Linked DNA regions of Homo sapiens. The protein of the gene in region 1 purifies or fractionates together with the protein of each later gene. This does not show direct contact. Each region holds a gene or a part of one and is shown in the gene's direction. Other genes may lie near its edges. The genes, in order: EYA1, CERT1 and SIX2.

Region 1 (3,752 bases):
TGCATATATACTTTAGTATATTGAATAACTGATACTTCTGGTCTGAGAAAGTGCAGTAGGTGGTAACATAATTCTATTTCTGCTGCATATATGAACAGATCCAATAGCAATCAACTGTGTTTTGACCTGGCTTCCCAAATATGGTAGATGACTAGCCCATGATTCCTTGCTGGTACTATACAAAATGAAATCCTAGGTGAGTTTGCAGTTTAAACTGTCGTTTATGTTTGACAAAGTGTTCTTTTCTGAGGAATTCAGATTGGCATACTTTCGGTGGTTGGGGGGAAGTCTGTAATAAATTTTGGTCATTAGCAGCTTTTTATTTTTTGTTTGCATCGGAATGGTGCTTTCATTTACATATTAGCAATATAAAGTTATGATTGTGTCTATGTGTTTTATTAGTTGACGATCTGGAAATGTATTATAAAGTCATGCAAAAAGTTATTGTGATTTTTAAAATTTTTTTCACATCTATCAAGCGCCTAAAAAATGAGGACGCTTTTTTTTTCCTTAAATAAAAGACCTAATCAGCAGAATAGTATTCTATGGGTGATGACAAAACAGTTTTAAGAAAAATCCGATGGGCTTAAAGATTTTATTTTAGAGCACAAAATTGGTTACAACGAGTGACTAGTATCAAAATAAACATTTGTATTTGAATGTTGGCACAGGTCTGGCAAATTGAGATACAATCATTAGTCACATAAACGATGCCTTCTTTGAATATTTGAAATCAACATAATGGTTAAGTCTTATCACCAAAGTCATGTATCTGTATAAAACATATCTTAACTGAAGCTCAGCTCTTTAGGTGAGTGTTATAGACTGTCATGCATAGATTCCGAGGTCAGTAAGAATTTTTTTTTAAAAGAATAAGCTGTAAAGAAAGAGTTCTAGATAACATGAATCTTTTCCAAAAACCATTTAAAAATATTAACACTGAAACATTATCTGGTTCATAGCCAAGGAATTGTTCACAGAAGATTTGCCATTCTAGAAATCATTTCGGATTCATCCTTCAGGCTTTCATTATTAAACTGATAAAAGCTTGCACGTTTGCTTTTTCATTTTCTACTTAAAGGGAAATGGCCATTCTAGTTTTTTATTTCCCCCAGACCTGTTTCAGTAGTAGGTACGTTAGTTAGGAAATAAATTATGAAAAGTAGTGGATTCCCTAAGTTTCAGGGCCTGAAAAAAGTTTAGGAAAAGTGTAAAAGATAACGTGTAACTACTCCCCAAAGATCTTAATTGGTAACTACTGTTGCAAGAGGACGCGTGTGTGTTGACCACGTCTCAGAGAAGTTATTCTCACACAGCTGTTTATTCAGATAGCGTGGGGCGCGTTCATTTACATAATTTTTTTTTTTTTAAACAGCAAGGTTGAGTCAGACAGAGCAGTGCTCCTTTCAATTGTTGCATTTAAACCAATAAGGTTAGGACAAGAGAATAGCTGTGGTTTGCGTTGCAAAAACCAAAAAAAAAAAAAAAAAAAAAAAAAGAAAGCCCCGAGGCTCCATGGGCAGACCTACAAGGCTGCGCAAACAAATCGAGGGATGAGATTCTGCTGTTTCTTTGTCTAGGGTTCTCAGATGCTATCTGCCGCTGCTGTTTGGTGGGGAAGGAGCGCTGGGCGCAAAGCTGTTACCAAACAGAACGGTGGGAGCTGATGGCTCCGAGTTTGGGGCGAGGTAGAAACTCTCCAGTGCCACTTCCGACTTTAAGCCTTCCTGTTGCCGTCCACTGTGGCGGGTTTCTTCCTGGGGAACACGTTTTCGCTCAGTCGCTCGGCAGCCCGAGCCTGCGGCAGCGGCCAGGCGCCTGCCCCCTGCGCCGAGCTTTCCCCTGCAGAGGCGCTCCACTCCCAGAAGCGCCGCGGCTGCACCAGAGCGCCTGAGAGCCCCCGCGCGTACCCATCCAGGAGCAAAACTATGTCAGGAATGGAGGTTTGCTAACCCAGAAAATTCGAAGGAACACATTAAACTGGTGGATGCAGCAGATGTAAGCGCTGTAAGTACAAGCTGACTGTTTGAAAAATTGTAGTGACTGACAACAGCTGTCCTGTGGGCAAAGCCCAAGCTAACAGGAGCGCTTTTATTATTGTTTTGATTTGTTTTCAAAGAAAAACATTATGGCATGGGGAAAATTATGACACTTTGTACCTAGTACTTTATGAGCCACAGGGTTTCATCCTAGAAGTAGAATTCCCAACCTCCAAATTATGAGCGATCAGGATCATTAAGAAATAATTACAAATTAATTGTTAACAATTACTTTTGTTATGCTCTAGATAAATGTAATGCAGGACCATATTCTTGCAGGGAGATGACTTCATATCTCTTTTCTGAATTGCTGCACAAATCTCAAATATATTTGTGTGGTATTGAATAAAGCGGTACATATATGTTCATTGCAATACATAAGTAACTTTTACACACTTTGATATGAAAAAAATGAAGCATTTAACATTTGAAAGGACAACAGATAACAACATTAAATTGATAGCACTTTTTAAGGAAGAAAATATTTTTGCTTTAATAAATTTCCCAAACGTTATATTAAACAAACTTATCTTCAGAAGGTGATATAACAAACATTTACCCAATTAATATATTTTTCTCTTATTGACACTTTGTAAGGCTTGAGTGGACCTTGAAGTTTAAAACAAGATCTGTAAACTTTTGAATTACCATTTAAAATATTTGCCATTCAAAATCAGTATATGAATTGTTAATGACTCATGGGTTTATATTTATTGGGAGGAGGTTTTGAACACATTAGAGCATAGCATTTGCAAGAATTCAATAAATTCAGAGCTGTCATTGAATTTAGGCAAACGTTTTTGTTTTATTTCTTAAAATGGCAAGGGGTACAAAAGGTCGATAGTAAGCACATAGTGTAGTTTTATAGGTTTGGGATTGTTTTTATAATGTGTCTTTCAAAGTAGGTTTTATTTTATGCTTGCATGAGTCTTTTCCCCCACAGTCTGGGGTCTGAGGACATGCACACATGTACAGTCATGCTTTTGCATTATCAAATATTTGATATTTGACTTTCTGCATGCTTGAGTTCTCCCAAGGCCCAAAGTGTTCAGTAAGTGAGCAAGCAGCCATGGATTTTCAATCTTTGAACATTCTTTGCGGTGACAGACATAGAGGCCTAATTGAGCCACTGTTCAGTTTTAGAGGGCCAAATGGAAGTCCACTGCTGTGTGAGTTTCATAGACATGATAAATGATTTTCTCAAAAGAAAATTTCCATTTGTGAAAATCGTATTAAGAATACATTGTAAAGAAGAAAAACACTTGCAGCAAGAATAAAACCACTTGTTTATCAAATATCAAAAGTATTTCATTCAACATTTTAAGTAAATTGATATTGAAAACAATCCTTTAAAGCTATTGGTAGCATCCATGTGGTTTAAATACTTATTTTTGTTTTCATGCGGACTCTATTTTGTCATTTTCTTTAAACGACGCATTGCAAAAAGTAATGTACTATACTACTTGAAAATAATCAGCAGTAGTATTAAAGCATTTATTTTATGGAGTCTTTGATAAAGAAGGAAATATAGTGTTAACATTTAAAAAACATTGACGTCTCCCTAGAACTTCATTTCAATTTTAGGTTTAGGTTTTTATTTTTAAAATTTAAGTTTTCATTACAACAATGATGCCATAGTTGGAGATATCGATTGAGGAGAAATTTTAGCAAGAATATACCCTAAAACACAGATTTATGGCTAAGGAAAATTTT
Region 2 (3,752 bases), on another chromosome or scaffold:
GATTTAAGTTTCACAATTTGTTCTTTGATGGATTATACCTTTACTGTCATATCTCTAATCGTTTTTAAAGTCAAAATTGACATTATTTCATTTATAATTATTCTACTAGAATGATTTCTTAACTATAGAATATTATGATTTCTTGTTTGCATCTTTGAGTTTTAAGATTTTTTGTTTAATTCAAAAGCTAACCATGAATTAAAATGATAAAATTGAAACGTAAAAGGCATTGAGTTTAAGTGCATTGGTCCTGGATTTAAATTTGTATGTTTATTTTTAAATTGTATATTATTTTATTAGATTCTTTAGTTTATCTTCAGATTTTTTTTAATTCTAGGCTTTTCAAAATAATAAGGTAGTTCTTGCCATAATTAGGTCCTACTCTAAGCTGTCAGAATGTTATTGTTAAAGTATTGCTCCTCCTACCATTTGATTAATTGGGTGCAGCACAGCAAATAAATTTCAGGAAACAGAATCTAGAAAAAAAGGACTTGAAAGTACATATGCTGCCACGAAGCTTCTTTGCTTATAGAGCTTGGATAGGAGATTTTTAAATGTTGGCCTACAGGAGGAAAATTAAAATCCCAAAACCTGCTCTGACTTGCTAATTTTCTAAACATTTTCTAATCTTAAATTGTGATGAATTATTTCCTCATTAGAGATATTTTCAGTGAATAATTTTCATTTTCAGTATTTCCACATGTGACACCAAAAGGAATTAATGGTATAGACTTTAAAGGGGAAGCGATAACTTTTAAAGCAACTACTGCTGGAATCCTTGCAACACTTTCTCATTGTATTGAACTAATGGTTAAACGTGAGGACAGCTGGCAGAAGAGACTGGATAAGGTAAGACTAGGTTTTTTTCCTTTTAAAAATAATCACATTTAAGTTTTACGTATTGTTTGAATATTTAAAACAAGCTAACTTCTTAGGGAAGAATCTTGGGTTGATAGAAATAGCAGATGATACTACTACTCTGAAGCTTTATGGGCATCCTAAACTCATTTGCCTAACAAGATTCACCAATTACTTGTTTAGTTACTATACAGTATGCTTTCTTGAAAGATTTAATATAAAAGTTTTTGTGATGATGTTAGTAATGCTTTGGAATAGAAGTGTTGAGCCATTTAACATTACACACCTTTAGGTGCATGATGTATGAAACTGCATTTAAGGCATATGAACTAACTTATATGCCAATTTACAAAGTTAAACATTTACTTATTATAGTAATACTCATGTATTTTTTCCATGGTCAGTGATACCATTTAACATACATTATGTTGTTTGAGCATTTGCCCTATGTTCACATTTTCCCACCTTTGTTTAAACTGCAGCACTGATAATATTATAGTATGACTCTTTAGTTTCTAGTGTGAAGCATGGCTCAGTGGATTTGTTAAGTAGGAAAACTTCTATTTATAATTCAGCTTTAGAATAATAGTAAAATGTTAGAGTTGAAACATACCTTAAAGTTCTAGTCCAATGCCATCATTTTATAGAAGAAGGAATTGAGGCCCAGAGGCTTGTCAAAAGGTGAAAAGTAATAGAGTTAGAGGCATTTTTCTCTATTCTTTTATATATCAGCTCTGGATGCCAGATTAGACATCAGCCAGAATCATATTCATTCTGAGTTATATTGCTTGCAGAGTTTGAAGGCCTTTGAATTTGAGCGGGACACTAAGGAAAGCAATGATAGCACTATGTGTTTAGGAAGGTTCCCATGTTTTAGAAGAAAAGAGAGCTGTTCAGAATGCACAAGTGCAGGTGAGAGTAAGCCATTTTGATTAGGAATATGTCTTCTTTTAAAATAGGTAATGAAAACATCCTTTTAAGGTATAGAAAATTTATTATCATTCTGGAGCCAAACTATTATTATCTTCAAAGATTTCAACTCTATACTCAGTGTGGATCAAATTGAATTATTAGAAGAGTCCCTGTTCACAAAAAAAAAACAATGTATTGAAAAACAGGACAACTCCCTAAATACATTAGACTAATGGTTCAAGATTATCATTCAGCTAGTCCAGACTAGCTTATTTCCAACTTTTTGGCAACTTTCTCTCTCTTTAGTCTCTTTTTCCTTCACTAAGGGATCATATTCTTTGGTCATATACTCTAACCACATTGCCTAAAATAATTTTTTTTAAACCTTTGCACATTATATACCACTTCCTGATTATTTTAGCATTCAAGTTTATTTGCCATGTTGAAAAGGGGAGATAGATTTTTGATTGCTTTCAGCATTGTTAATCTTACCAGTTCTCTTTCTTTATTGGGTAGCAATGAGCAGAGCAAACCAAAGATCTGCGGGAAAAAAACCACTTTTGTTGCTTCTCCATGCAACACTCTCCACCAAAGAACAGCCAGAAAAGATGGCAGGCAGTATTGGTTAAAATCTGGACACTACTGTGTTTTATAGTCTTCTTACAGATCTATCTGATGTCAAATTTTATTAACCTTTTCCACTGTAATTTTTTCTCAAGGTTGAAATAACTGGATCCCAGTTACATTTTACATGGAATGTAAGTGTGTGTGTATTTGCACATGTGTGTACACACAGTATGTGTGTGTTCATATATATATACATAATATATGCAGGGTATGTGTGTATTTATTGGTAAGCAACTCTATTCAAGAACTTTCTAATCTTTTGTATGTAGAGTGTGTGTGTGTGTGTGTGTGTATATATACACACTAAAGACTAGAAAGTTCTTAAATAGAGAAAGTTGTTTATCAACAAATACGTCTTTCAGGTAATTCTTAGAATTGAGAAAGAAAGTACAATGATAACAATATGGTTTCACTGAAATTGTTTCATTCAGGTGTGTGCCTGCTGTGTGCTTGACTCTAAGCTAGGAATGGGAAAACAGTGATGAGCAGGAAATAGTCTCTCAAGGGGCTTAAAATCTAATGAGAGCAATTAAATAGGTGATAATAACAGCTATTTAATAATAGAATTGTCTATATTATACTTTTATGTAGATTTATAATGTCAGTTCCAGGATTCTTTCAGCTAATTGAAAATACTATTTTGTAGTGATGATTTTTATTGGTTACCTATAATAATAATGATCCTTTCCACTGTAGAAGAAGTGTACTTAATTGTTAGCCAGTCATGTCCAGGAAAACCAAAAATTCTAAAATTAGGCAATTATGGTTAACAGTGTTAATAAGAGATAACCTGTTCATTGAAGATACATTTTCTTACATTATTAGATTCACAGGTGTGTACTTTTACATACATTTTCACTTTCCTGTAAGTCTTTAATATTATTGCTGTGCTGTGCATTTTTGTTTTATTCATTTAAAATTAATACATAACATACATACAATGAAGTGTACCAATCTTAAGTATACTACCTGATTTTTTTTAACGTTTGTATACACCCCTTAACCATAGACAGATCAAGATATATAACTTTTCTAGCACCCTAGAAGGTTCCTTCATGCTCCTTCCTATTCCATATCATACCACCACCCCAAGAGGTGATCATATGGTTTTAACCTATGTCATTATAGATTAGTTTTGCCTGTTCTGGAACAACATACAAATGGAATCATACAGTATACTTTTGAGTCAGGCCTTCTCTTTCCTTCAACATTTGACTGTGAGATTCATTCATGTTGTTATATTTAATAGTAGTTTATTCTTTTTTATTGCTATACACTATTTTATTGTATAACTTTTTATTGTATGACTTCAATTTGCTTATCTATTTTCCTGTTGGTGGACATTTAGATTTTTT
Region 3 (3,752 bases), on another chromosome or scaffold:
TTGCCAGGGCTGGGACCAGCCAGCCAGGTGAATCCTTTTAACCACGTAGCTGAAGGAGACGTGCTGAAAAGAGTACGTTGCACTTTTGTTGGAGGTCAGCAAATTGGGCTTTGAACCTCATCACAGTCTGCGGTAAATTCTTCTCCATGTCTCCCAGGGTCCTTAGATCCAACTCTGGGGCAGCCCCTGTGCAGCAGTGCATAGGACTCTGGATAGGGTGGCCTGGACACAGCAGACCTCCTCCCAGCCCACAGATACAGACTCTAAAGATGCCACCTGGATTTCTGCAGAAAGCTTCCCCTTTCTGCACCCGCACTGGCTTGGGACCTACTTTGTCAGCCCTGTGGCCTCATTCAACATGCCAGGGTAGGCCCCTGGAAGCTAAAGTCTTAAGAGGAGTCCCAGGGTTCCATTCTCTCATGCCTACAACACTCCCAAAGGACTTCCGGAATGCTGCAGCACAGGGAAAATTTTTGAAATCTTGCAGAGAAGGAAATAAACACAAAGGCATAAATATATGCCTTACCATAGACACCAAGCAAAACCAAAAGTTGAACCCAGGGCTCTAGACTCCCATTCCGCGCTCCTAGCACAAACTCCATAGAAAGCATAAAAGGGTGGGAAAGAAGGAACTGGCCTAGACTCGGGTTCCATAGCCCTAGACTGGCTGAGGGCAGAGCCCAGGATTTGTGCTGGCTTGGGTCAGGCACTGAGTATGGCCCTAGGAGCTCCTGGCCTGCAGCAGCTGAGGGGGGAAGAGGAGGAAACTGAAGGAAGTGGAAAGGACATGTCCGGGAAGGAGCTAAGCCCCGGGCTTTTCAAAACGTAGAGCAAGAACACACCCATCCTCAGTTCTCCCACCTTTGTGCGAGCCCTTCTCCCACAGGACCAGCACCACATGTTTCCATTGGCACCCTGACAAAGAAGCAAAAAACAGGACCCCCTTTTAAAGCACCTCATCCCGGAGCTCAGCGAGCCGGTTCCCAGGCTGGAGTGGCCAGGAGCCGAGCCGATCCCCAGCGGCGAAGCGGGAGGACTGGGAATCTTGCCTCCGTTCTCCTCCCCGACCACCCACCGGGGAAGCCCCACCACCGTCCTAGAGTCCCTGCCGTCGCCCCTCTCCCCCGCCCCGGTGGGCAGACTGCGGGTCTGCGCCGTCCGGGGTTCTGCGTCGCAGCTGCCGGCCGGAGTCAGCTTCCATAGAGGCCACACGGAACTGCCTGGCGCTCCTCGGGCTGTGGGACCCGTGGGGTTAAGTCTGAGTCCCCGCCCGGCGAGGAGCAGAGAGCGCAGAGTTGGGGCGGTACAGGCCGCCAGGCAGCCGGCGGGGCTAGGAGAGGGAGGAAAGGCGGGATCCTCCGGGAAGTCGATTCTCCGGCGTCCGCCTGCGGCCACTGCCAAATCTTCCCCATTTCTTTCGTCTACTCCCTCCCCTTTTCCCTCGAGGACCGCTGAGTCCAGAGTTTCTAGGATGGGGGTGGGGCGCTGTCAGCAGAAAAAGCCAAGTCTTTGGGCGGCACCCGAGCACGTCCAAACTCTCCCATCCCACTGGCCTGCGCCGGGGTAGAATGTGCCCGGTGAACAGAGAGCCTGGGAGGGACGCGGTGACCTGGGGAGAAGGGGAACCCTGTAGGGTCTGGGCGAGGCTGCAGAGCCCTCTCCTAGCCAAAGCTGCCCAAACTTTCTTCCCCTGGAGTCTCCTTCCACCCCTCTCCCTCCCCTTCCTCCTGGACACCCCCTTAAACGGTCTCCGCCTTCCCTTCTCTCCTCTTCTCTCCCCACCTCGATCCACCCCTTTTCGTCTTCGCCCGCTCCCCCCGCTCTCCTGTCCTCCTCCTCCCTCCCTCTTTGGGCATCCGCCCCGTCAATCTCCGCCGCCGCCGGCCCCAACCCGGCCCCTCTCCGCCTCCCAGGCTCTCAGAGCGCCCCAGGCTCCAGTAGAGCCGCCCTCAGTTCTGCGCGGAGCGGGGCGATCTGTCAGCGGAGCCGGCCGGGGGGAGCCGCCCGGCCCGCCGAGGCTCGGGTTACCAGTGACTGACAGCGTCTCCATGGCGAATAATTTGACTCCGACTATTGTCTGGCGCTGGCAGGCCCCGGGTCAGATAACCGGACCAATCAGGGCGCGGGCCGCCGCGCCTCATGCCCGCTTAGAATAATATTATTAAGAAAGCTGAGAGCCAGCTAGACGGGAGGGAGAACGAGTGAGAAGCGAGCGAGGGAACGGCGGGCGGGCGCGGAGCATGCGGAGCGGCGCCCCGGGCGGCCCCCGGGCTTGGGCGAGGGCTTGGGCCAGGCGCGCGGGCCGTTGGGGTTCGGAGCTTCGTGGGACCCGCGGCCGGCGCGGGGACGTACGGCAGTGACTCGGGGCTCACCGGGGGCCAGTGCCGGGCCAGGGGGCCAGCCCCGCCCGCGTCTCGGCCCGGACGGCCCGGCGAGGAAGCTCCCATGCGGGACCGCGCGGCCCGGTGAGGGCGCGCGCGGGCGGGCGGGGACGCAGCCGGCACCATGTCCATGCTGCCCACCTTCGGCTTCACGCAGGAGCAAGTGGCGTGCGTGTGCGAGGTGCTGCAGCAGGGCGGCAACATCGAGCGGCTGGGCCGCTTCCTGTGGTCGCTGCCCGCCTGCGAGCACCTTCACAAGAATGAAAGCGTGCTCAAGGCCAAGGCCGTGGTGGCCTTCCACCGCGGCAACTTCCGCGAGCTCTACAAGATCCTGGAGAGCCACCAGTTCTCGCCGCACAACCACGCCAAGCTGCAGCAGCTGTGGCTCAAGGCACACTACATCGAGGCGGAGAAGCTGCGCGGCCGACCCCTGGGCGCCGTGGGCAAATACCGCGTGCGCCGCAAATTCCCGCTGCCGCGCTCCATCTGGGACGGCGAGGAGACCAGCTACTGCTTCAAGGAAAAGAGTCGCAGCGTGCTGCGCGAGTGGTACGCGCACAACCCCTACCCTTCACCCCGCGAGAAGCGTGAGCTGGCGGAGGCCACGGGCCTCACCACCACACAGGTCAGCAACTGGTTCAAGAACCGGCGGCAGCGCGACCGGGCGGCCGAGGCCAAGGAAAGGTACGAGTAAGTAGACCTTCTTCGGCGCCAGCTCCCCGGGGCCCAAGGGAGGGGTTCGCAGGGCTTCTGCCGGTCCCCCGGAGAGGCCTAAACTGGGCCCCCAGGCCCGGCCACAGCCCAGCGGCAGCCCGGCCTGACTTGGACGATGCTTAGGCCTTTCTATGCCGGAGACCCGGCGAGCAGGGATTTGTCTAAAGCGGGCAGAGCAATTCAGGAAGTTGTCAACTAACTACTCGGTCGCTAGAGGAAAAGGGTGGAGAAGCAGAGAGCTTCGGGGCAGCGCAGAACTGTGGGCCTGTATCCCCTGTGAGGCAGGCACAGTAGGTCTGGTCATCCTCAGGACAGAGGGGTTTGAGCCCAGATGAAAGGGGATTTGCAGATTTCTTGCTGGTGGTGCTTCCCGGCATTTCCCCCCAGCCTTAGCTCCAGGCCAAAGTGTGATGGGGTCGGGACTGGGGCTGGAACTTCCCTAGAATGACCTGGATGGGGAAAAGCCAGGCCATGAATTTTCGTTGTCACATGGAGTTGAGAGCGGGTCCTTTATCTCCTTAGAAAGGATCCAGAGGTGAAAGGGAGGAAGTGTCAGTTCTGGGAGAGAAGAGACGCATGCCCTGTTTTCTGCCTTGCTAGAGATAGCCGCCCTTCCCTGGCACTCCAGGCCCTTGATGCCTCTCTCCTTAGGCCCTA

What was found.
Region 2: the proteins of EYA1 (region 1) and CERT1 purify together in Homo sapiens (affinity purification with mass spectrometry; 2 studies listed by BioGRID and IntAct, with this or other methods). This does not show direct contact.
Region 3: the proteins of EYA1 (region 1) and SIX2 purify together in Homo sapiens (affinity purification with mass spectrometry; 3 studies listed by BioGRID and IntAct, with this or other methods). This does not show direct contact.

The regions. Positions count from the first base shown.
Region 1 is NC_000008.11:71,359,902-71,363,653, reverse strand, and holds the start of EYA1 (protein phosphatase EYA1), read left to right. Parts: upstream 1-1,584; 5' UTR 1,585-2,007; intron 2,008-3,752. UniProt on the Homo sapiens protein: Functions both as protein phosphatase and as transcriptional coactivator for SIX1, and probably also for SIX2, SIX4 and SIX5.
Region 2 is NC_000005.10:75,413,973-75,417,724, reverse strand, and holds part of CERT1 (ceramide transfer protein), read left to right. Parts: intron 1-691; coding exon 692-849; intron 850-3,752. UniProt on the Homo sapiens protein: Shelters ceramides and diacylglycerol lipids inside its START domain and mediates the intracellular trafficking of ceramides and diacylglycerol lipids in a non-vesicular manner.
Region 3 is NC_000002.12:45,007,864-45,011,615, reverse strand, and holds the start of SIX2 (homeobox protein SIX2), read left to right. Parts: upstream 1-2,163; 5' UTR 2,164-2,505; coding exon 2,506-3,065; coding exon of another isoform or gene 3,066-3,071; intron 3,072-3,752. UniProt on the Homo sapiens protein: Transcription factor that plays an important role in the development of several organs, including kidney, skull and stomach.